Homo sapiens: one gene and its partners. The protein of the gene in region 1 purifies or fractionates together with the protein of each later gene. This does not show direct contact. Each region holds a gene or a part of one and is shown on either strand. Other genes may lie near its edges.

Region 1 (7,048 bases):
GACACTCTTCTGTGCTTCTGAGTGGTGGCCCACCTCAGCAGCCAACCTGCCAATCTGGAAGTGGGCAACAATCCTAGAGGGGGCAGCCAGGCTGTGTCTGAATTGGGGCCCCTGGTTTTACCCTGCCTCTCAGGGTGTAAGCACTGCTTTTTAGTGGACCCTCTGTGACGTATCCCTGTGATGCCTCCCTGGCTACTCCAGCCCTTTCTTGGAACTTCAGCCAGAGTGTGGCTAGCATTCTAACCATCAATGGGCATCTCTCCTTGGATAACAACATCTTTCCAGACAATTGCTTTGGAGCACTGTGTTATCTCTAGGCCTCACAGCAGTTGTATGACGTGGATATTATTTTCTCTCTACTTTAGGGACAAGAAGAGGAGGCTCAGAGAGGTTAAATAACTTCCCAAGGCCACTGGGTAAGAAACCGTGGGATCTGAATGCAGCTGAGGCTGTTGGATGCCAGAGCCTAGACACAGAGCACAGCCTCATTCTTCAGCCTCCCAGGTCCTCTAACGCAGTGTGTCCAGAGCTGAGCCCGCCTAGAACTGCCTTCCTTTTCTCAGACACCTGGGAGACGTCCTAGACTCCATCCTCTCTGTTGCCGCAAAACATAACCAGTTGCTTCTTGAGTCTTTCTGTGATGTGCACCTGCCTCCATCCCATGGCCACTGCCTCAGTGTCAAGGCCCTCATGAACTCTCATCTTTGTATTTGCAAGAACCTCCCCACAAGCCCCCTCCAAGCTACCTTCCACAGAGCAACTAAAGAAATCTAACTAGAATATTAATGGTCACAGCTTAATACCACCATCTCCTCCCAGCGTGCTCAGGGGTTCCCCATGGCCTGCGGGGTTGGTCTCCCAGCTCAGGAGGCCCTTCATAATCAGGCCTTCCTCACCTCTCTGGCTTCCTCCTGGCAACTTGGCTCCAGCTATGCCAAATTACCTGTGGTCCCCCAAGCACAGTATACCCTTTCACAATTCTGTGTCTTTACTGTGCTGTTCCTCCTGCCAGCAATACCCTTCCTTGTCTTCTCTATCCAACAAACTCTTATTCATCCCTCAAAACCCTGATATGGCATCTTCTCCCTTATTCTGAAGCTTTTTCTGACCTCCCAAAGACAAAGGGTTTAATACCTCCAGCAACACAGCCCTGCACTGTAATGAAAGGGCTGGCTCCCCTAGAAAGCAGGACAGTGCAGAACCTTCTCTATTTCTCTGTAACCTAGTTCAGGGCCTGGCACCCTGTAGGCACTAATAAACGCTTACTGAGCTGAAGGAGACTGTTCTCCCCAAAATCGGATTTTAGAGGTTTATTGCCTGCCCTGCCATTCATCTTCCTAAAGCTTCCCTCCTGGAGGGCTGGACTGGGTCTTGCATTTTGCTTCTCTCCTCCATAGCAATGGGGCTGCAGCTACACTATTCTCTATTTCCTTGGGGGTCTGACAGGGTATCCAGCTGCTCCACCCCACAAACTGTCCCTTGGGGTGAGTTGGAAAAGCACCTCCCCATCCCCCACCTTTGTACCTTGGAGGGGAGGAGGTTGACTTCCATGATGCACACGGCTGCCATGCGGGACACTGCCAGTCCGATGGCCTTCTCCAGGAAAAACAAGATTCCAGGCACCAGCAGCCACTTCCAGAAGTTGGGCCCATGAAAGATGAGCAGAAGCCACACGAGGAGGTAGGACAGGTGAGTCCAATAGAACACCTATGGGGGTAGGGGGGGCAGTCAACTTCCAGAGCTCAAGGCCTGGGGGGTGGAACAGAGCCAGGACTCAGGGTTATCCTCAAAGCCAGGGCAGTGCTCAGAGCCTTGACTCTCTCCCGGGGATGGAGTTGGGTAAGATGTTGGGGCTGGGAAGCTTCTTTTTCTGGGTGCTTGGCCAAAGGAGGCTGTAAGGGAAGATTCCTGATACCAGAGGCAAACATCTGAAATATCTGCCTGGGGAGGTTCTGGGCAGAGTGGACTGCCCCCACAGGGATCATGAGCATCAGTATCGCTACCCCCGACCCATTCTCAGAAGGAAGAAAGGAAAGACAGCAATGGCTTCCTGGGAGTGGAGAAGAAATAGCAGAAGACAATTTTAGCACCTTCTGAAGCTTTGTGATCTTGGGCAATTTCATTACTTTTCTGAGTGTGAAATTCCTCATGGGTCAAATGAGGATTCTGATTCCTACTTCAAAGGCTTGTTGCTGGCCCAGAGTAGGTACGTGCTCAGTATATGTCTATTTCTGATGTGGTCAGGCCACAAGATAGTCAAGCTCTCCAAACCAAGTCCTCTGTGACTTTCTGCATCTTGAGGAGGCTGGAGAGACAGAAGCAAAGATGGAACTAACATTTTCAGAGCACCTATGTGCTAGGATGTAGTTAGTGGTTTTACATGTATTATCGCCTATAATTCCTAAAATAACATAGAGAATTACACCTCCATTTTACAGATGAGAGAACTGAGGCTTGGAAAGGTTGAGCGACCAGTAAGCAGTGGAGTGGGGATTCAAAACCTGCTGAGCCTATGTTCCTTCCCCTCCCTGTACTGTTTTAAGCCCAACTTAATCCAAATAGGCTAAAGGGATAAGCCAGCAAAAAGGCAGACTCTTCCGCAGCAAAACATCTACACTTGGCAGACATAAACTACAGTCCAGTGGCAGAACACAGCAGCAGGTCCCAAATCACATGCAAATAATATGCAGACCAGCTTGGGACCTTCCTGGGCTCTGGAGTAAATCAGAGGGGACACAGAAAGAAATGAAAGTAGGACCCTGGCCTTGGGGGAAGCAAAAGGGCAGCAACTGGGGCACCTCAAAGTGGCCACTCCTGCGGATGCAGGAACTGGAGCAGATGAACATGAGGAGGAGCAGCAGCAGCAGAGCGACACCTGTCGGGGAGGCCGAACCGTGTACCCAGCCAATGCCAGGCCTCGTGGTGAGCAGCAGCTCCCAGAACTGGAAAGGGCTGGCCTCCGCCTGAGCCTGGAGTACTGGAAACAAGCTCAGAAAGGTTGAGTGACTGCAAGACCAGCTCTTCCCACTCCACCTTCCCATTGGGATCCCCACCCTGCACCATCAGATACTAGCACGGGCAGAAACTTTTGTCCAGAGCGTTGGCTTATCCAGGGCACCCCTTCTCTGCCCTTTGGGCAGGCAGTACACACAGGGGCTGGGCCCTGCATTCTGGGCTTGAGGCTGCTCAAGCTTCTCCCCGACCCAACCCTGCCCCAGATCACTCACCAAAGTTCACAGTGTGAGCCACGGTGTGCACGAGGGACAGCCCCACTACCACGTAGCCCATAAGCTGGTGGAACTGGATGTTCTGGTCCAGTGGTAGGACTTGAGCCAGCCACGTGGCCCGCAGCCAGGTGAGGCAGCGTCTGAGCATCAGCACCTGGCCAGGCAGAGTGGGAGAGAGCCCTGCCTCACTCTCTGTCTGCCTTGTCCTCTTTTCCCAGCCACCTCCCTGCATCCTCCTGAGCTAGCTGTGCTTTCTGAACAGGACACTCACCAAAGTCCCCTGCCCCCATGCCTTGTTGCTTCCCTGGATTCATACCTGGGGTCTCTAGAGGAGGATCTCCAGAATTGTGGCGGGAAGAGAAAGTTACAGAATGTCTATTTGTATTAATTTTTGTCTAAACACATGAGAAACATCTATGCTTTTACTAATATTTAATATATGGGCCAGGCGCAGTGGCTCACTCCACTAATCTCAGCACTTTGGAAGGCTGAGACAGTAGGATCACTGGAGCCTAGGAGTTTGAGACCAGCCTGGGCAACACAGCGAGACCCCTGTCTCTATAGAAAAAAAAAATTGTTTAATTAGCTGGGCATGGTGGCACACACCTGTAATCCTAGCTACTTAGGGGGCTGAGGCAGGAGGACTGCTTGAGCCCAGGATTGCTTGAGCCCAGGCGTTTGAGGTTACAGCAACCTATGATCAGTCCACTGCACTCCAGCCTGGGTGACAAAGACCATGTCTCAAATAAATAAATAAATAAATAAAATATCTCTGTTGACTTGGTGCCCTCATTTAGTCCATATGTCAGATGGGCACGTGTTGTGTTAGTTCTCGAGGTGCCTTGCAGGAGCCAAATCCAGAGTGGTTAACCAGGGTTCTCTCATTGCTCATTTGCTTTCAGTATATTTATGTTTGCCAAGGATGTGGACTTGTAGGTTACAGTATTTGACTTTACCAAAACTAAGCTAACTACCCCTCACAGGAAGGACAAGTAGCTTTAAAAGTTTCCCAGCAGAGAAACCACAGATTAACAGTTGTGTTAGTAATACATGAGCAAGTGACCAAGAAAATGAATCACACGTCTCCCACTCCTGGAATGAAGTCTTTGTTAGCTCGTTGAGCCATTAAGACAAAACCCACTTTAGGGATGGGTACCCCATTTTGCAAGATGTGATTATTACACATTGCATGTATCGAAACATCCCATGTATCAAAACATCCCATGTACCCCATAAATATATACACCTACTATGTGCCCACAAAAATTAAGATTAATAATTAAAAATAATAAAAATAAATTTAAAATAAAACCTATAAAACCCACTCTAATGAGAAGCTCATATCCAGAAGCGTATCTGAGCTAGAGATGGGCATCCCTGCTCATCAATGATGAATCTTCCCCTGTAGTTACTTTGTGCCATAAGTCTATTAGCTAATGATAATAGAGCATGCATATAAGCATAAGAGGGCTTTTGTTTTAATGGTAGGAGTTGTGTGATCAAAAACTCTTAGAGGTCAGGCGTGGTGGCTCATGCCCATAATCCCAGCACTTTGGGAGGCCGAGGAGGGTGGATCACCTGAGGTCAGGAGTTCGAGACCAGCCTGGCCAAAATGGTGAAACCCCATCTCTACTAAAAATATAAAAATTAGCTGGGCATGGTGGCGGTTGCCTGTAATTCCAGCTACGGGGAGGCTGAGGCAGGAGGATCGCTTGAACCCGGGAGGCAAAAGTTGCAGTGAGCTGAGATCGTGCCATTCCAGCTGGGCAACAAGAGCAAAATTCCGTCTCAAAAAAAAAAAAAAAAGAAAAAAAAGAAAGAAAAAAAAAAACACCTCTTAGAGGCCTCATCCATGAGCCAGAGAACCACATTCCAACTCCATGGTCTGGTATTCAAAGCCTCTTCTAGGGTTTCCTCTTGAAGGTGCTCCTGCACAGGGGTCCACTATAGGGGAGTTGTGAAGATCAAATGGAGCGTGCTCAGCACCGTGCCTGGTGCATAGTGCACAAAAATGCCAGTTATGTTATTATTTACTGGCTGTGTGACTGTGGACAAGCTACTGTCCCTCTCTGGGCGGCGTCCTCCAACTCTGAGCGTTGGCCCAGCTGATTTCTAAGGTGCCACCCTGCCCTGGCATTCCAGGTGTCCTCTGTGGGTCGCTCTGTCTAGGAGGAGCCCACCTCGGCTCCTAATTAACATTTTCAGAGCACCGTGTGCTGGCAGAGCCTACCGCGATGAAGCTGCAGTCGAAGTTGAGGCACTGGCCGCAGCCCTTGGCCACCATGACGCTGGCGCCGAGGTCCCGGTGCGCGCTGGCCGCCAGCCCGAAGAGCAGCACGTGGAGGCCTGCATAGGTGGCCAGGCAGAACAGCTGGCTGCGGTGGTTGTGCCAGTAGGCGCGGGTCAGCTGGCGCGGCCGGCGCGGGCGTGGGCGGGGGGCGGGGGCCGTCAGCCAGTGGGCAGCGCTGCGAGAGAGGCGGGTTCCGCTCAGAGGCGAGCGGTGGGGCGGGGACCACCTGTGTCTTAACTTAAAGACCCCCTTCAAGCTATGGCCGACCAAGTCTGGCAAGCAGGCCGGCTTTCTTCACACCAGGAAACAGAGAGGTCAAGTGGCTTGGTCACAGTCGCACAGCTCCGCGGAGCTGAAAGGGGACTCCGGTCTGCCTAATGCCACAACCACCGCTATTTTTATTACTTCTCTTTACTTTCCAATTTTAAAAGAAGCAGTCGAAAAGGATGGAAGAATCTGAAATATGTTTTGGTAAGTAAGCCCCAAGAAAGTTAATAGGCAGGTAGGTGCCCAGTGCAGTGGCTCACGTCTGTAATCCCAACACTTTGTGAACCCAAGGCGGGCGGATCACCTGAGGTCAGGAGTTCGAGACCAGCCTGGCCAAGATGGCGAAACCCCGTCTCTACTAAAAATACAAAAACTAGCTGGGCGTGGTGGCTGGCACCTATAATACCAGCTACTCGGGAGGATGAGTCAGGAGAATCGCTTGAACCCGGGAGGCGGAGGTTGCGGTGAGCCGAGATCATACCACTGCACCCCAGCCTGGGCGACAGAGTGAGACTCCGTCTCAGAAAAAAAAAAAAAAAAAGTTAATACACAGGAAGAATGAACTACAAAACCGGCTCTATTCAGAGCCTGGAGTCGGACAGACTTGGGTCTTGCTGTTACACTCTTATTTTCTCCACAGCACTTATTAATTTTGTGCTTCTCTAGTTTGTGTGTTTATTGGTGTAAATGACATGTCTCTTCGTCTGGAATGGAGCCCCAGCAGGGTGGAGACCTCATTCACTGCATTAATCAGAACAGTGCCTGCTGCATAGAAGCTGCTCAAACATTTATTGCATAAATACCTTTGTTAATTATTTGTGTGATCCTAGGCAACTTACTTCAGGCGAAGTAATTTCCTTTTGTAAAACGAGTATTGCTATAAAATGCACTGGTATATGCAAAAGTGCTCAGCACACAGTAGGTGCCTCAGACCTTGAGTTGATTCTGCAGAGACACTGCAGGAAGTGGAGGCAATGAAGACAGCTGCCCTGCAGTACACTCAAGAGTGGGCTAAACTGGGGAGGGGCGGGGCAGGGCGGGGTAGGGCAGAGTGGATCCGCGGTGAGTTCCTGCCACACTTCCGACCAGGAGTCTAACGCCGCCGTGGACAGTGCCAATGCCCGAGACCCGGCCGTACCTGATGGTCAGGTTCTCCATGACTCCGGGGAAGCGCTGCAGCTCGTCCCGGAGCTCCTCGAAGGTGATGGCCCCGTTGCCGTCCGCGTCGGCCGATTCGAAGAGCGCCAGCGTCAGCTGGTCCAGC
Region 2 (7,048 bases), on another chromosome or scaffold:
AATTGAATAATATATTTGGAACAGTGTATTTGGATTAGAGTAGGTAAATATTTTTAATTTAAAATAGTTCAAACCCAGAAAGAGACCTTTTAGATTTTTTGCTAACATACTATAGAAAAGATAATTTTTGATGTCAAATATACCAATGTATTTATTATGCCATCCTATTAGCTGCTTTAAAAAATCACTTTTCTACATAATGCCTATTTTGAAGGTCCAAAACTATAGAATTAGCTTAATGCAGATTATTTGTCCCATGGCGTAATGGCATAAACACTCCACAAATGTATTAAGACATGGCAAATAACATAGAGTATGTGATTTCTTCTGAGTTTATTAGCAAATATTAAATAAGATTATCCTTGTTATAAAGTAATACACAACAAGGGCTGTAAAATCTAATTACACCTCAGAGAATATGTAAATTTAATGGAATAAAATATTGTGGCATTCCTTTGTTAGCTAAAGATAGGTACTGATAGCCACTATAATTAATCTAAAAATGATTACCTTGGTGAACATAGAAAAAGTATGCTATCTGCTTCAGGTAAGTAGATCATTTGACCCTTGAGACGTAAGCAGCTGATCTCAGTCCCAGTCAGTTCATCCTCACATTCTAATTTCTCCACATCCAACAATCCTTCCTTGAAAAGGCAAGATACAACCATTAATGAATGCCTTTCTCCCTACCTAAGAATTCAGCAACAAGGACACGCATATCTCATTTCCCACCAAACCACAAAGCAGAATAAGTGCATCATTAGAACAGGAGAGGGCCTTCTGTCAGAGTTCTGCCTGTAATAAGCCTAGTGGCTGCCTTGCAACACTGCAGAAAAGTGACTGTCCCGTCTGAATTCAGGACAGTAACTGTGCTACTCTTCACATAATTATTTCAAGCTTTTGTGAATCTTTTTTATCCCCCTGATTTTCCGGTATGGTTCCAACATACATTACCAGACTCTCAAAGAATAAGCCAAGCCTCCCCATTCTCCCACCCTGTATTCATAGAGCAGCTGCAAACAGTCAGTTCCAAATACAGAAAGGATTCAATGGGTACTCTAGGAAAATGACTTTTGCTGTATCTATCCCAAGAACAGAAACCGTGAGATCCCAGCACTATCTAAATTATCAACTGTGTGAATATTTCATCACTTTTATTCACCCACAAAAACGCTACTAAGAACAATAGACAATTTAAGAAAGAATAAATAAGTGGTTTTGAGTGAAGTTCCAAAAAAAAAAATCCTTTTTAGTTCTGATTTCTAAAATAAGGCACTGTAGCTGTACAGGGAGTAAAAGATGTTGGTTTTTTGATGTGAAACAAGGCCGTCTCAGAAAGACAGTCTCTAAAATTTACCTCTGTTAATTTTAATCAGTTGATAGAGTTCCACTGCTCCTCAGGCAAACCAAAAATCAATGTTATTGCCTTTTAAATAGATCTTCCTTTGAGGTCTGGGTTTTATCTCTCTATACTTTCTCAGAGAATGTGATAATTTTCCCCCCTGAATACTTCTAATTTGTGACATACCTTTCTCACATTTAATGAAATAATATCTTGATTACCTTGCTTCTCAATACAAAAACAGTATTGATGTGAGAAAGGATCCCATGGAAACTAATATCAATATGAGGACGAACCAGCGAGAAGACAGACAGAAGGCTGCAATTCCCAGGCTGGAGCTAAAATATAGATAGAGAGCAAAGAGTATCACATCAGTTAAAATAGTTTTTATACTTTGATATTAATCGCTTGATTAAATCAGCTCAGTTATATTTAAAACTAGAAAATTATAATTATTATAATTCAAGGGAAACTTAGCTGAACTATCAACTCAAATCTCAATCTATACAACTCAGTGATTAAATGGACATTAAATAGTTACAAGAACATGAAATCTGATATGGATTCAGATGACTAATATTCAAATGTAAGCTAGCATAAATTTACAATGCATTTTCAGAAGGAGAAAAAATGAAAATTTATCTTTTAAAATGTACAGTGTTATGTTAAATGTGTATGGCTTGAAATGAAATTAAAATACCAAAAACATGAGCAAACCCTCTCTTAATATTTATCTAGAGGGCTAAAAGTGAAAACAATAGGTAACACTGATTGATTGCTTACAATGAACTAAGTATTTTTCATATGCTTTCTATTCTCATGCCAGAACAAAGAGAAACAGGCTGAGAGAAGTGAAGTAATAAGTTCAAGGTCATACAGTAAGGGACAGGTAGAGTCAATACCAGAGCCAGGACAGCACACTACTCTGCTTCCATTTCACCTGATCCAACTGGGCTAATCCTGAATTTTCAAGTCTCTTTAATTACAAGCAAAAAGTATCTCTAAACGTATGCCATATACAACTCCAAAAGTTAGTATTTAAGAAAAAAAGAGTAAGCATAAAGGATTTTACCAATGGATCTGTCATAGAAGTCAACAGCAGTTTCTCATCATCATCCCAACTGCTTCCTTTGATGCTTTTTCTACTGAATCCATCATCATCTCTATCATTTTGTGTTTTAGTTCTTTTTAAAATCCCCCCTTTTCCCTTAACACCATCAATAGTTGATTTTTAAAGCTATTTACAGATGGTAGATATCCAATGAATATTTATTCAGTGAATAAATAAACATGTGAAAGGTGACTGTTACTAAAAAGTTACCCATTTTTTTTCACTGTAACAAGTATACTATTCTTACATAACATTCCTACTGTTTCTGTATGTGATTATTATAAAAAAATAGTTGTCCTAGGGAAAGTTGTGGTATGCTCAAATACACTTAGTTCACAATTAAACAATTTGTGTAACTTACAATAAACTGCATATTACCTAATACATAGTCAGAGGGTTAAATGAATGGATGGCTGCCTGTAACAATAGTATTTCTATGGGCTTTTGTCTCAGGCCCCAAGGAAGTATGCTGTCATTTTACCTGGGGGAGAACTCTGTATATAGCATTGCCACACTGAGTGACCACTAGGTCCCGGTCAAATATTATATGAAAAGGAAAAGCTTTGCAGAATGTATATGGGCTGATGCGTGATTCCTGGGTACCATTTTCTTCAAATCTGTCAAGATCTTCATAAAAATCCTCTTCTTTTGACTCTTTTTCTTCAATTAAAAATTGAGTATGATCACATTCTTCATTTCTTTGCTGAATAACCTGGATATCAAAGGGGGAAATGGCATGAATTGTCTTCATTTCAGTTTAATAAAAATACCTAAATATAAAAAATGAGTTATGAATACTGCATTTAGAAGATTAATTACAAAAATTCAAAACATATATGCAAATACTCCATATGTCTAAAATAGGAAAATATTTCTGGACTTTGATCTATAAAATTTGAAGATTGAATAATCATTGTAAAATTACAAATCTGGTATCAGTTCCCCAGTATCCTATATGGTCTCTTTGGTAGAATTAGAAAAAAAAAGCACTTGTGGGCTCTGCCTTCTTAGCCAAGCACACTTGTATAGTGAACAACCTGAAAGCCAGCTAAAAGCAAGCTAGCACTATCAAATAAGATTACAATACTATTTTAAAACAATGGGAAATAAAATGATAGAGATTCATATTCAAAAATAAATGCAATGTCATTTTTAACCATCAACTATCAAATACATAAAGTTACAATACCAGGCCAGGTGCAGTGGCTCACGCCTGTAATCCTAGCACTTTGGGAGGGTGGGGCGGACAGGTCACCTGAGGTCAGGAGTTTGAAACCAGCCTGGCCAACATGGCAAAACCCCATCTCTACTAAAAATACAAAAATTAGCCAGGCGCAGTGGTGGGTGCCTATAATCCCAGCTACTCGGGAAGCTGAGGCAGTAGAATTGCTTGAACCTGGGGAGGCAGAGGTTGTAGTGAGACGAGATCATGCCATTGCATTCCAGCCTGGGCGACAGAACGAGACTCTGTCTCAAAAAAAGAAAAAAAAGTTACAATATTAAATTGGGTAAGGTACTGAAAAAGAGGCATCTCAAATACCACTGATGAGGGGGTATTTTGATTAATCTTTCTGAAGGATAAATTGACAATAGGCATAAAAATTCCTTAAAATTTTGTGGATTCTTTGATTTAATTGCAAATCTAGGAATTCATTCTAAAGAAGTAATCGTAATTGTGAGCTAATATCTATAATGTAAAAAAATCCTACTTTTCTAAAGTATTATTCACAGGCAAATACATTATTAAAGTATAGATTTTCCTCTTCTTTTTGGGTTAAGAAATTGCAAGCAATGAGCCCTCTTACAAAGGGAAAACTCGATCTCAACGGCAACCAGACCCAAAACAGAAAAAGTTTGGGACAACATTTCTTCAGTTACAGCTAAATAAAAACAAAATGTTGTTCATTTTTCTTTTCTTTTTTTTTTTTCAGGAGTACCCTGTCGCATTCTCTGCAATTTTTAAAAACAAATCACAATAACTATAGATGCTATTGTATATATTCTTTTAGATATATTTTGTAGCAAAACTGGGATGTTACTACCTCACTGTCAGAATAACTTACTATACTGGTTAAATATTAGTATCCTTATTTATAATTTGAAAATTTTACCACATTAAGGTTGATTTCCCTAACTCATAGACAAGGCAAGAGAGTCAACCTTAAATGACAGGCCTACTTTTGATGTTCTACTCTGTTTCTATTTAACTAGAGAAATTGAATTATATGTATCCTAAACTTATGAATTAATTATTCAATTCTAATTTTTTTGCTTTGATCAAACTGGCAAAACAAATAGCTTTTCTAATCATATTTTTAACTTCTCATTGGTATATCACTTTATGACATGATCTAGTATTAACCATGTGGTTCAAATTGTCTGGTATCTCTGGACCTGATAAACTTAATGTGAGAATCCCTCGAGAAGTCAAAACAGTGCTTTTGAAAAAATTAAACACATAAAATATACCTATAAAATGCAAATATTTCAGAAGTTCATATTGAAGCACTTGAATAAATGGTCAGAAGAGAATTTAAATATTTTATAAAGTGAACCATATAATTAAGTAAATACTTGAATTTCATACAGTTTGCTAAAGCCATCAATCTCCCATGCCAAAGATTCTAATACCACAGTAATAGTAGTTTCCAAGTGTGTCCTAATTTGTGTTTCTTTCTGAAGTTTCTACGAACCTACCTCTTTCTCAGTCTGGTTAAATAAAAATAAAACCAACAGTGCATACAATATGCATATACGTTCACTCAGTATAGATGCTGTGTTTTTTTTTGTTTTTCGTTTTGTTTTGCTTTATTTTTTTTTTTTTCTCTATTTTTTTGATAATGGAGTCTCACCCTGTCAACCAGACTGGAGTGCAGTGGCGAAATTTCGGCTCACTGCAACCTGTGCCTCCCGGGTTCAAGCGATTCTTCTGCCTCAGCCTCCCGAGTAGCTGGGATTATAGGCGCCCGCCACCACGCCTGGCTATTTTTTTAGTATTTTTAGTAGAGACGGGGTTTCACCGTGTTAGCCAGGATGGTCTCAATCTCCTGACCTCGTGATCCCCCCGCCTTGGCCTCCCAAAGTGCTAGGATTACAGGCGTGAGCCACTGCGCCCAGGCGATACTGTTAGTTTAATGTCAAGAACAAAAGACTGGCCGGGCGCGGTGGCTCACGCCTGTAATCCCAGCACTTTGGAAGGCCGAGCCGGGCGGATCATGAGGTCAGGAGAGAGAGACCATCCTGGCTAACACGGTGAAACCCCGTCTCTACTAAAAATACAAAAAAATTAGCCGGGCGTGGTGGTGGGGGCCTGTAGTCCCAGCTACTTGGGAGGCTGAGGCAGGAGAATGGCGTGAACCCGGGAGGTGGAGCTTGCAGTGAGCGGAGATCGCGCCACTGCACTCCAGCCTGGGAGACAGAGTGAGACTCTGTCTCAAAAAAAAAAAAAGATTGGAAATGTGAGGTATATACTATTTTGATTGAATACCAGTGAGATTCCCAATCATGGATGAATTGTGATACTTTACCCAAGGCTTTAATTTTTAAATGTCTGCATTTGATAATGCCATGTTATACACAGTCCTACTTTCTATTAGGTTGGTGCAACAGTAATCGTGGTTTCCGCCATTACTAATGGTTGTAGAAAACTAACGATGCACCTGGAAATCACCAAAAGGTGCCACGTAAGAACTAACACCAACTTCTGAAAGAAAGAAAACCATGAACTCTAACATAACTTTACTAGATTAAATATGTGGAATATCTTTCTAATTTATTTAAATGTTACTATTTTAATTTTGGATAATACTCCACTTAAGGGTTTTAGACCTCCCAAGTGTGTTACAATATATCTATGATCTATAAGAAAGAACTGTCTAATAGGTTTTCTATAAACAAAGAAAGGTTGGAAAAAGGTATCTATCTCCCCACTTTGGCCTCAAGTTTAAAGCTACTGAGAATTGACTCTTGGGTATGAACATGCTGAACACATAAAAAGCAGCCTGACTGGGAGAAACCGTAAGGGCCAGAGGTAAAGAGAAACAGTGGTTCTCTTTGTTGTACGGTTGCCCTATCAGTACCTTGAAATCATCACTCAAAACTAAGAGTGTGTATTATCAATAACAGCACAATTTTTAAAGTACCAGACCTGGCTTCTTTCACCAAGTAACTTGATTAAAAACAAAAACAAAAACAAACACTTTCATTCACAAAATTAGACATTCCAACTATATTTCGGGGCAGACAAAAATCGACAAAGAGAAAATGATCTATAAAATAATACTTAATTTTATATTGCCTTAGAATTTGACTATCCATATTATGGATATTTTGCATGCTGAAACCCACAGCTCAGTCGTCACATATCCTTCTGCTTCCCAGCTGGTGTGTGTTCACAGGGAATGCAAAGTAAATTTCTTGTAGCCTTGAACACTATATAATTAGAAAGAAAAATCTGCTGCCAGAAGGAAAAAAATATCCTGTATAATGCACTCCCAGGCCAAATATAGAAGATTGCTGGTCTTTCCACTGTTTTGGCTTATATATACTTCCAGGGAAGAGCACTAACAGTGATAACTGCAGGTAAATTTAGAGAG
Region 3 (3,297 bases), on another chromosome or scaffold:
TGATTTTTAAAAATTAAAAAGATTTTAAAAGATGTACAGAATAGGCCGGGTACAGTGGCTCATACCTATAATTCCAGCATTTTGGGAGGCTAAGGCATGAGGATCACCTGAGCTCAGAAGTTAGAGATCATCCTGAGAAACACAGCGAGATCCCGTCTCTATAGAAATCTTTTTTATGGTGTTGTGCACCTGTAGTCCTCGCTATTTGGGAGGCTGAGGCAGGAAGATTGCTTGAGCCCAGCATTTCAAGGCTGCAGTGAGCTATGATCACACCACTGCACTCCAGCCTAGGTGAGAGTGAGACCCCCTCCTCCCACTACCCAAAAAAATTACAGAGTAATGTAAAGATTTGAAGTGTACTGTTCAGTGGTGAGGCCTGAAGTAGGAGGAGGTGGATTAGAGGTTTAGGAGGTAGATTGGATGGGAGCTGGTGTAGTGTTGAGTGATGTGATAGGGGTGTCCAGCTAGTCTTAATGCTTTGGCTTGGTAGGCAGGAAGGAAAGGTTTTTCCAGATCTGATTGATACCTTTGGTGGTGTTTTGCTCTGGTCCCAAATCTCTCTTCTTCTAGTTTTTGGACACATTTTTAGCTGCTCATTTTCTCAGTTGTTAGCAAATTACCCAGAATTCTTTAAAGGCCTGAGTTCTGCCCTACCCCAGAGGAGAAATCTAAATAGAAAGCAGACCGATGCTTGGAGGAAACCCGTTTCATGCTTCTCAGAAAATGTAAATGCTGTTGGAAGTTACTACCTTTAAAATTATTACCATAGGCAAGAGCCTACCCAGGACTGGTTTCTGGCAACTTCAGACCCTAAACTGGGTGGAGCCACGAAATAGGCCCTCTGTCCCAAAGCAGGCCCACTGAGTAATACAACACCCCTATCCCTGGGAGGCCAAAGCCCTCCCTGCCTCTCTAGCCTGCCTGACTCCTTTTGCTTTGTGCCCTAGCCACAGCAAACATTCTGGTTACTTGCACCTCCTGGCTTTTGCTCCCCAACCCCCATCACCACCCCTTCCCCAAATTAAAGCCAAGTTCAGACATGGCATCTTCCAGGAAGCCTTTTTTGATTCCCTTCCTCATAGAGGGAATCGTGCCTCCTTGGGATAATGCTGCGCCTCACAAATGCTTCTGCAGTTGTGCCTTGCTGTCATTAATTGGTTCCTCATCTCCCTCCCCTCCAGGACTGAATTTGAGAACAAAGATGATGGTGTGTGGGTGTTGGTTTTTTAATCTCTGTGTTTTCAGCACAGGGCCTGGCTTACCACTGAATGTTGAATGAATGAATAAAACCATGCTTTATATTTTTATTTCATATTTAGCCACAGACATGCATGATGCCAGAGGACTGGCCTAAAGGTTCTGGCTAGGTTGTAAGGATGAGAATGTCATGCTAATTTGCCAGATTTATGAACAACCACATAACTGTGCTAAACTTGCATTTTCATGTTGACTCCCATCCAGAGGCTCACCTTGCATGTTGTTAGGAAGGTGCATGGATGGTTAAGATTGTAATTAAATTAACACCCTCTCTTTTGTTGTGTTCACGGCAGGTACTTTGTAAAAGCCCTGACACCAGCATTTTTGGTCTGTGTAGGATCCTCTCCTTTTTGCAAGAATTTTCTCCGGGGGAGAAAGGTGTACCAGATACGATGACTAAGCCAGGGCCCCTGGATCTCCTCCCTTACCCTCCTCTGCTGGGAACCTAGCACACCTGAATCAGCTGGACATACTGCTGGAGTCCAGTGCTTTCTTTCCGTCACCCTGGGGATAGTCCTTCCTGGCATCGTGGTGGGGGAGGAGCCTCTGGCTTCCCTAAACTGCAGCCTCTCTGGCTGGTCTTCACTTTCCTCAGTTGATATAAAACTCTGGGTCTTGGCCATGATGTCCTTGGACTCCATCGCTAAAGGGACCATCTGCTGCAGTTACCACAGCAACTGACCTGAGCGGCACCCTGGTCTGTGGAGATGGACTCAGGATCCAGTGACATGATTCTGAACTTTTGTGGAGTTTGACACCTTAGAGAAGCTACCCCTCAAACTGCACATCTACACACAAACAAACAATGCATAGGATTCCAAGGCTTTAAAGCTGAGAGACCCTGGCCTCAAGTTATTTCATGCGCACAGAGGGAAGCCATGTGGGGTTGCTGAAGATGCCTTGAGGTGAAATGGGGGCAGGAAAGCCACATCTTGCTCTGCATTTATAAAGACCGTACAAACTCAGATCCTTGGTACCCCTAAAAAGATTGCCAATTTTCTTCATCTTTGCCATATGGAGGACTGTGACAGACTTTGGACAGTGGCCTCTTGAGTTCCTCTGCAGTTTTGACATTTAGGATTTTGTGTCTTTTAAACTGGAAAATCTTCTAGCATGTTGGGTTGTTACAGAGTATATTTTTGTCTGCAGCTGTTTGTTGCCCCATTCCTAAGAGGAGTTTATCCATCCTGACTTGTAGCTGTGTGACTTCTTGCAGTGCCCCCACCCCATCCCCCCGGGAGAGTGTACTTCCCTGCTCCCAATGCAGAGGGATATGCACAGGCATGAGCTGTCCTGCGTCTGACAGAAGCCTGAAGAGTCATGTGTGGTTGGCCTGTGCTCTTCCCTCTGCTGTGAGAACACATTTCCCACAGAGGAGCCGTTCCATGGAGCCGAGCTACAGCAGCTGGCCTGCAGCCACTGAGTGTCACAGCAATGAGAGAGCAATGTTTGCTGTAGTAAGCAGTGAGATTTAGGGGTTGGTTGTTACTATAGCAGAGCTAATACATGAGTAAACTGAAGCCAGCTGCTGTCCTTAAAAGTGGACTAATTTGAGGCTGGGTGCGGTGGCTCACGCCTGTAATCCCGACACTTTGGGAGGCGGAGGTGGGTGGATCACCTGAGGTCAGGAGTTCGAGACCAGCCTGACCAACATAGCAAACCCCGTGTCTACTAAAAATACAAAAATTAGCCAGGCGTGGTGGTAGGCATCTGTAATCCCGGCTACTCGGGAGGCTGAGGCAGGAGAATCACTTGAACCCGGGGGGCGGAGGTTGCAGTGAGCCAAGATCGTGCCATTGCACTCCAGCCTGGGCAACAAGAGCAAAACTCTGTCTCAAACACAAACCAAAAAAAAAGTAGACTAATTTAGAGTTTTGTGTAGTGTGCCTCACTGTCTTTGAAAGGAAATTGGCTGTGGAATATTTACAAAGAACCATGCAGCTTCCAGGTGCCGGTCCCTGTCTGTGGCTTGTGGCTAGGAAGCTGAAGTTCAGCCTCCTTCCTACTCCTGGTTTTGGCCACTTAAGGACCTGAGGACCA
Region 4 (7,320 bases), on another chromosome or scaffold:
TATAATGAGAATGGATGTCAAAATGGGATTCTAACATTTTGTAAGACCCTAAATTTATCAAATAAAGAGTCAAATATGTGCAATGAACTCTTCCTGAGACAGGAAGAAGGGGCACTTTTTAGAAAGATATTCAACAGAAGGGTTTTCTAGTTGACTGACTATCAAGGTAGAGAAAACCCTATAACTCCATTCATTAAAATATGACTATTAATACCTTACTAAATATCCTTCTACATCCTTACCCACGTTTTTATACACATGCTTTTAACACGTGTTTTAAATAACAAAAATGAGATTCCACTAAATCAACTATTTTAACCTGTCCCACTCACTCCCCTCTTTATTATACTTTTTGTGTCAAGTTGATTTATTTATTGAATAAATAAAATCCAGACTTTTCTGTTTAAGTGCCTGAATTTGTTCTTACACAAAGCAAGTGCTCTCAAGAAGCTCATTCTTGAAGATGGTTGAGAAATATCAATGACCAATATCAAAAGAACATTAACCCATGAAATGTACATGAATATGGCCACGCGTGGTGGCTCACGCTTGTAATCCCAGTACTTTGGGAGGCTGAGGTGGGTGGATCACCTGAGGTCAGGAGTTCAAGACCAGCCTGACCAACATGGTGAAACCCCATCTCTACTAAAAATACAAAACTTAGCCAGGCATGGTGGTGTATGCATGTAGTCCCAGCTACTTGGGAGGCTGAGGTAGGAGAACAGCTTGAACTCAGAGGCGGGGGTGGAGGTCGCAGTGATCCAAGACCGTACCACTGCATTCCAGCCTGGGCGACAGAGTGAGACTCTGTCTCAAACAATGACAAGAACAACAAAAATTTACATGAATATGCATATCAGCTGAAGGCAAGCACATTACAAATGTAAGTACAATTTAGTAGAAGGGGTGAGGGAGCCTGGGTGTCAATGGGGAAGCCTTGGTGAGCTCCTAGAAGTAGGATGAAGGCTGTGAGACAGTCTCAGTCCTGGTGATACAGTCAGGATGATGTAACAGGGTTCAGTGAGGGAGTGCAAGGTGACAGAACAATATGGAGTATCTTATACTAATTCCTGCAAACTTCTCAACTATGTACAAGAAAACAAATACTTACGAAACAGAAGAAAATGGCCAGGTATAGTGGCTCATACCTGTAATCCCAGCACTCTGGGAGACCGAAGCAGTATCACCTGAGGTCAGGAGTTCGAGACCAGCCTGGCCAACATGGTGAAACCCTATCTCTACTAAAAATACAAAAATTAGCCGGGCATGGTGGTGGGCGCCTGTAATCCCATCTACTCGGGAGGCTGGGGCAGAAGAACCGCTTGAACCTAGGGTGGGGTGGAGGTTGCAGTGAGCTGAGATCGAGCCATTGCACTCCAACCTGGGCACTAAGAGTGAGACTCCATCTCAAATTTAAAAAAAAGAAAAAAAAAGAAATAGAACAAAACACAGCAGTGGATACAGTGCTTTTTGGTTCATTCAAAGCAGTCCCATCAGAGTAGCATATTAAACTATACAAACGGCTCCAAATGGCAAAATCTAGACAGTAGAAAATCCCAGGTCCTAATTATGTTGTCAAATAACTTACAAAAAAAAAAAAAAGATGAAGGAAGAAGCTACAGATTAAAAGAGATTTAACAGATTTATCAAACAAATAAAAAAGGACTTTTGGAACCTAATTCAAATAAAGTTAAAATACATATGACATTTACAAGAAAACTGGAAAATCTGGACAGTAGATATTTGATATCAAGAAATTCCTAATTTTTTAGATGTGGTAATAGTATTGGGTTATGCTTTTTAAAAGTCCTTATCCATTAGAGATGCATATAGAATTATGGGTGAAATAATATGATGTACAGAATTTCTTTCAAAATAACATGGGAAGGGCGGCCAGGTATGGTAGATCATGACTGTAATCCCAGAACTTTGGGAGGCTGACATGGGAGGATCGCTGGTGTCAAGGAGTTCGAGAACAGCCTGGGCAACATAGGGAGACTGTCTTTACTTTAAAACACACACACACACACACACACACACACACACACACACACACAAACACACACACACATACAATAAAAAATAATAATATGAGAAAGGAGAAGTGGATAACGAAAGCACAGACAAAAGAAGACTGGGCTTGAGCTAAATCACTGTGGAAGCTGTGTGATGAGGACAAGGGGTTTCAACAGATTATTCTGTTTTTGCATATAGTTGAAATCCTTCATAATAAAAGTTAAACAAAAAAGTGCTACAAATCCTAACGCTGACACTAAATTCTACAGCATGAAGAATTTATGGAAGAGTGAGACTCTGTCAAAAAAAAGAAAAGGTTGTGGAAAATTACCTAATGATACAAAAAGTATAATAAAGGGGGTGAGTGGGACAGGTTAAAATAGATGATTTAGTGGAATCTCATTTTTGTTACTTAAAAAAAGCATGTATCATGTATATAAAAGCATGGGTAAGGATGTAGAAAGATACTTAGTAAGGTGTTAACAGTCATCTTTTAATGAATGGAGTTATAGGCTTTTCTCTACCTTCTTTATTACGTTTAAGAATTTAATGATAAAAAGTCACGCATGTTGTTTCACCCCAGCAGTGTTGGCTTTACTAAAAACACATACTCTAAGAATCCCATACATGAAAGGTGGAACTTAATCAAGAACATGTCAGAGAGAAGCTGCTTGAGCAAGAAAATATCTGAAAAGCAAGCTCTCCTAGAAGAGAAGCAAGGCCTCCTTAACAGTTTATAAGCACACACCTGTTAGGGGCACATACTGCCTGCCAGTGCCTTTCACTCTAAGTCTCTCTGTAAGCTGTAAAAGCAAACAGTTTAATGGCAAATACATACTCTATCCAGGTTAAGGTGCCACAGATTTATAAACGTGTAAAAACACCAGACCTTGTTTTGGGGTTAAGGTGAGAAAAGGGCTTGCTAAACAGTCTCTTTCCTAGAAGGAAGTTCTCTTACCCACTCACTCCCTGGGACAGAAGGTCAAAGAGCATCTCTGGTTGGAATCATAATGCTTCGGCCTGAAGTGACCAGGCCACTCACTACTTTAGTTGCCCAAGCAGTATCAAAGGAGCTCACCTCATAGTCTTTCCTTGGAAGAATCTCATCCTCCTCCTCCTGTGTTTCTCCAAGGATGGTCTAGAAAAACAGATCCGCAGAGGGAGCCTTTTTTAGTGGTTAGGAGTGGAAGGAGGCAGAAGTATTTACTGAAATCAGTGGCTAGCTTCTAAATCATCTGGAGCCATTATCAAATAGGAACCAGCCCTCAAAAAAAACCTTTCAGGGGTGAGGGACCATGTGGGTGAGGATCTACAGCCATCAGCTGAGCTCTTCATTTCCACTGATAGTCTCCAAATAACCACCCTCCTCTTCAGGACACCTCAAAGATGTCCAACGCCAGCTGAAAAGGGGGGTAAAAATGCAGGTTCCATTTGACAGTGTGACGTATCTGAAATCAGAAAGGACTTGTCAACTCTGGGAACACAACTCAAGTTTTCCCAGGATGCTTTGCAGGGGGAAGCTGGACTGTCAGTGACCCAGAAAGGGTGAGGGATAGAGTGAGAAAGGACTGGAGAAGCTAAAACAGCAGCATGATAAGCACAAAGTCCTGTGAGGAAGCTCATTCTGAAAACGCTTGTTTCATTCCAAACTCTTTTCAGATGGAAATAAAAGGAAACATGGGTGGGATTTACTGGAGCTGGCCTGGATTCTCCCTCAGATTCCAGGAGGGGTTATGAGAAAAGACCCCAGACTTAGGCACGTGAAGCAGGGTAGACGCTTCGAGAGCCCTGGCTGCGGTCCCCAGGCCCCACCCGCTGCCACCTGCGGGCCCAGATTGGCCCGGCCCCACCCCCGGCAACGCCTCTCTCAGTCCCTTAGCAACCGCCCCCTCCCCAGGCCGACTCCGCCGGCTTCTTACCAGCTCCTCGGGGGTGCGGGTCTCACGCTCACCGCAGCAGCAGCACCACCTGCAGCAGCAGCACAGAGACCCCCTGCACCCCGCCATCTTCCTCCTTTACTGCCACTCTGGACCCCTCTACCAACCCCCTCCCAGCCAGGATCTGCGCCTCACGTGACTGGCCCCGGGACGGTCACGTGGCCCTCTCGAGCTCTGGGACTGAGACCAGGAGTGGCTGCAGACGGGTGGGGCGAGGACTCGCGTCACATGACGATAAAGGCACGGCCTCCAACGAGACCTGTGGGCACGGCCATGTTGGGGGCGGGGCTTCCGGTCACCCGCGCCGGTGGTTTCCGCCCTGTAGGCCCGCCTCTCCAGCAACCTGACACCTGCGCCGCGCCCCTTCACTGCGTTCCCCGCCCCTGCAGCGGCCACAGTGGTGCGGCCGGCGGCCGAGCGTTCTGAGTCACCCGGGACTGGAGGGTGAGTGACGGCGAGGCCGGGGTCGCCGGGAGGGAGATCCTGGAGCCGGCAAACAACCTCCCGGGGGCAAGGACGTGCTTGTGGGCGGGGAGCGCTGGAGGCCGGCCTGCCTCTCTTCTTGGGGGGGGCTGCCGCCTCCCTTGCGCACCCTTCGCGGGATTAGTGTAACTCCCAATGGCTACCACTTCCAGCGACCGCCAACCCTCAAGCGAAGACTGACTTTGGCTCCCTGCCTGGACGGAGGGGCCCCTGAGCCAGGGGTGACGATCCCGCCCCTCTGACCGGCCCAGGCCCGTGTCCTCGCCCCCATCGGTGACTCAGTGACCTGGTGACTGGATTCTCGGCCACCTGGGCGCCGAGACGGCTTCCGGCTCCTGCCTTTTAAACCTGCCTCCCCGGCGATCACCTGGAGAAGAGCGCTGGGCCCGGGGCACTGCGGTCCCTGGCGCCCACTGCGTCCCGCTGCGCACGGGGGTCCGCCGGGACCTTTCTGGGAGTCGTAGGCTTAGTATCCCAGTGCTTGGCGCAGACTAGTTGTTCAGTAAGTGGCAGAGGCTTATTTTGAGAGAGTGGCAGCACCTGGCCCTTTGGCGCTCAGTGAATGTTGGCTATCACCGTGTGCCAAACTCTGGGGATACCCCAGGCAGGACACCGGTCCTGTCTCAGGGAACTGGGGAAAGAGAAAGGAGACAGGCCTTTTCACCCACAGTTACAACCCAGGGTGCTATGGGAGTCCAGCTGATAACGGATAAATCGTGGGAGTTGGCTTACAAATATGGCACATGCGTGGCATATACTAGGAATGCAATAAGTCTTTGAAAATCAGAGGGTTTACAGGTGGTTCAGCTTCCTCCTACTCTAGGTTCTGTTCCAGCAAGCAATTAACGAGGTGCGCCCTTAAACGCTGGAGGAAAGCCAACTGGCTGCTCTTGCTGTTACTCCTCCCCCCCGCCCCCGTTCCTCACTCCCCACAGCCATCCCCACTGAGAATCTGGAGTTTGAGGTCAGAATGAAAGAGAGCAGCCCTAGAGGGAGAAAGCTTTGGCCCAGGGTTCTTAGTCTGGAATCAACTCCTTGTCTTTGGATGTATCCCCGTGTAGTCTGTGCACCTGTGTGTGTATTTCAGGGGAAGGGAGCAGTGCATTTAATCAGATTGTCAAAAGAGTCTAAGACCCCAAATGGTTAGGTACACAGGGTTAGTGGTGGACAGTCTGAAAGAAATGAACCTCACCTGGGCTTTCCTCTGTTGTGCCATGTCACCACACACCCATTCACTACTGTGTGTTTGCCCATTGCTGTGCAAGTGTTTTGTTTGTTTTTAAGTGTTTGTCTTATTTTCTTAACCAGACTGCCAGATGACCCTATGCCCTCTGTTGGCCTGTCTGTGCCCTGGTGGCTCTGATTACTTGTTTCTGTTTTTTGTTTTTGTTTTTTTTTTTGAGATGGAGTTTTGCTTTTGTCGCCCAGGCTGGAGTGCTATGGCACAATCTTGGTTCACTGCAACCTCTGCCTTCCGGGTTCAAGCGATTCTCCTGCCTCAGCCTCCAGAGTAGCTGGGATTACAGGCGCCCGCCACCAAACCTGGCTAATTTTTATATTTTTAGTAGAGTCGGGATTTCACCATGTTGGCCAGGCTGGTCTCAAACTCCTGGCCTCAGGTGATCCACCCACCTCGGCCTCCCAAAGTGCTGGGATTACAGGTGTGTTTTTTGTTTTTTTAAGAGATGGAGTCTCGCTATGTTGCCCAGGCTGGCCTTGAACTCCTGGGCTCAGGCAATCCTTCTGCCTCAGCCTTCCCAGTAGCTGGGTCACTGTGATGATTTGAATTGAATTCTGTGATGTGTAAGAAGAGCAGCCTGCAAGGCAAGCACAGATGGGGCAGCTTTTGTTCTGAGAAATTCGTGCCCTTACTGAACTTGGGTCTGGCTATTTTTGGAACATGGCCAGCATCAAGTTCTAACCCACAACACGGTCTTTTTGGAGTAGCATGAATTCAGGAGAAATCTGGCTGCATAGTCAAGCCCTCACCCCTTCCATCCTGTGCACGAACTGTTTCAAGTAACAGATGTTCCAGGCAGAGCCAGCCAGAGTGAGCTGTTCCTTCTCTGGAGGGTGATCTGGTATCCCTGAACGCCTGTTGGCCTCATCTCCACCAACCCCTGCAGTCTCTGCCCCTGAGTCCCCCTCCTTCCATCCGCCTCCCCTTACTAGAGCCTCAGCCCTCCCTCCTCGCCTGGAAGCCTTGCCCCCGCCCCCTTGTGCTGGCTGGAGCTCAAGCCTCTTCCTTTGTCGCAGCTCCGCCCAGTTGAACACACCCGCTGGGGAAGGTGCCTCTGTTCCCTCCCCACGCACTCTGGGCCTGAGCTGACAGAGATGGACCATCGAAAAGCCAGGGTCCTCCCAGCTGGGCACTACTGCCCCTCGCTAGGAATATGGGCCTCGCAGGTCGGCAGCGTGAGGTCCTCTGTGCCACCTTCCATCAGGTAGCTGTCACCGAGGAGCATGTTGCAGTGCCGGGTGGGGGCTGCCTTGCATGCAAGGAGCCTGGCAGCAGCGGAGGGCAAGGCTTTGAGTGAGGCGGCCCGGACAGCCATAGCTGAGGAGCATGGAGCCACTGGGAGGGGGCAGTGTCACCTTTTTTGGCCTTCTTCCTGTGTGGAAATACAGCGCCTCCGGCTTGAACCTGCCACTCAGGTGTCTTGATGTGTCGGGGGTGTGGCTGCCTGCCCCCTGATGCTCCCTGCCCCACCCTGTGCAGTAGGAACCCAGCCATGGTGAACGAAGCCAGAGGAAACAGCAGCCTCAACCCCTGCTTGGAGGGCAGTGCCAGCAGTGGCAGTGAGAGCTCCAAAGATAGTTCGAGATGTTCCACCCCGGGCCTGGACCCCGAGCGGCATGAGAGACTCCGGGAGAAGATGAGGCG

Evidence for each region.
Region 2: the proteins of NOX5 (region 1) and GUCY1B1 purify together in Homo sapiens (affinity purification with mass spectrometry, with the first as the bait; 2 studies listed by BioGRID). This does not show direct contact.
Region 3: the proteins of NOX5 (region 1) and TTC4 purify together in Homo sapiens (affinity purification with mass spectrometry, with the first as the bait; 2 studies listed by BioGRID). This does not show direct contact.
Region 4: the proteins of NOX5 (region 1) and MTHFR purify together in Homo sapiens (affinity purification with mass spectrometry, with the first as the bait; 2 studies listed by BioGRID). This does not show direct contact.

Annotation. Positions count from the first base shown.
Region 1 is NC_000015.10:69,031,687-69,038,734, reverse strand, and holds part of NOX5 (NADPH oxidase 5), read right to left. Parts: coding exon 6,923-7,048; intron 5,693-6,922; coding exon 5,458-5,692; intron 3,382-5,457; coding exon 3,228-3,381; intron 2,978-3,227; coding exon 2,799-2,977; intron 1,708-2,798; coding exon 1,525-1,707; intron 1-1,524. Other genes in the region: SPESP1-NOX5 readthrough, read right to left, coding at 1,525-1,707, 2,799-2,977, 3,228-3,381, 5,458-5,692, 6,923-7,048. UniProt on the Homo sapiens protein: Calcium-dependent NADPH oxidase that catalyzes the generation of superoxide from molecular oxygen utilizing NADPH as an electron donor. May play a role in cell growth and apoptosis.
Region 2 is NC_000004.12:155,789,973-155,797,020, reverse strand, and holds part of GUCY1B1 (guanylate cyclase soluble subunit beta-1), read right to left. Parts: intron 3,166-7,048; coding exon 2,935-3,165; intron 1,681-2,934; coding exon 1,564-1,680; intron 645-1,563; coding exon 511-644; intron 1-510. UniProt on the Homo sapiens protein: Mediates responses to nitric oxide (NO) by catalyzing the biosynthesis of the signaling molecule cGMP.
Region 3 is NC_000001.11:54,739,861-54,743,157, forward strand, and holds the end of TTC4 (tetratricopeptide repeat protein 4), read left to right. Parts: intron 1-1,550; coding exon 1,551-1,653; 3' UTR 1,654-2,797; downstream 2,798-3,297.
Region 4 is NC_000001.11:11,802,965-11,810,284, reverse strand, and holds the start of MTHFR (methylenetetrahydrofolate reductase (NADPH)), read left to right. Parts: upstream 1-4,320; 5' UTR 4,321-4,397; exon of another isoform or gene 4,398-4,938; intron 4,939-6,747; exon of another isoform or gene 6,748-6,770; coding exon of another isoform or gene 6,771-6,880; intron 6,881-7,155; coding exon of another isoform or gene 7,156-7,168; coding exon 7,169-7,320. Other genes in the region: CLCN6 (H(+)/Cl(-) exchange transporter 6), read right to left, coding at 3,095-3,154, 3,936-4,022. UniProt on the Homo sapiens protein: Catalyzes the conversion of 5,10-methylenetetrahydrofolate to 5-methyltetrahydrofolate, a cosubstrate for homocysteine remethylation to methionine. Represents a key regulatory connection between the folate and methionine cycles.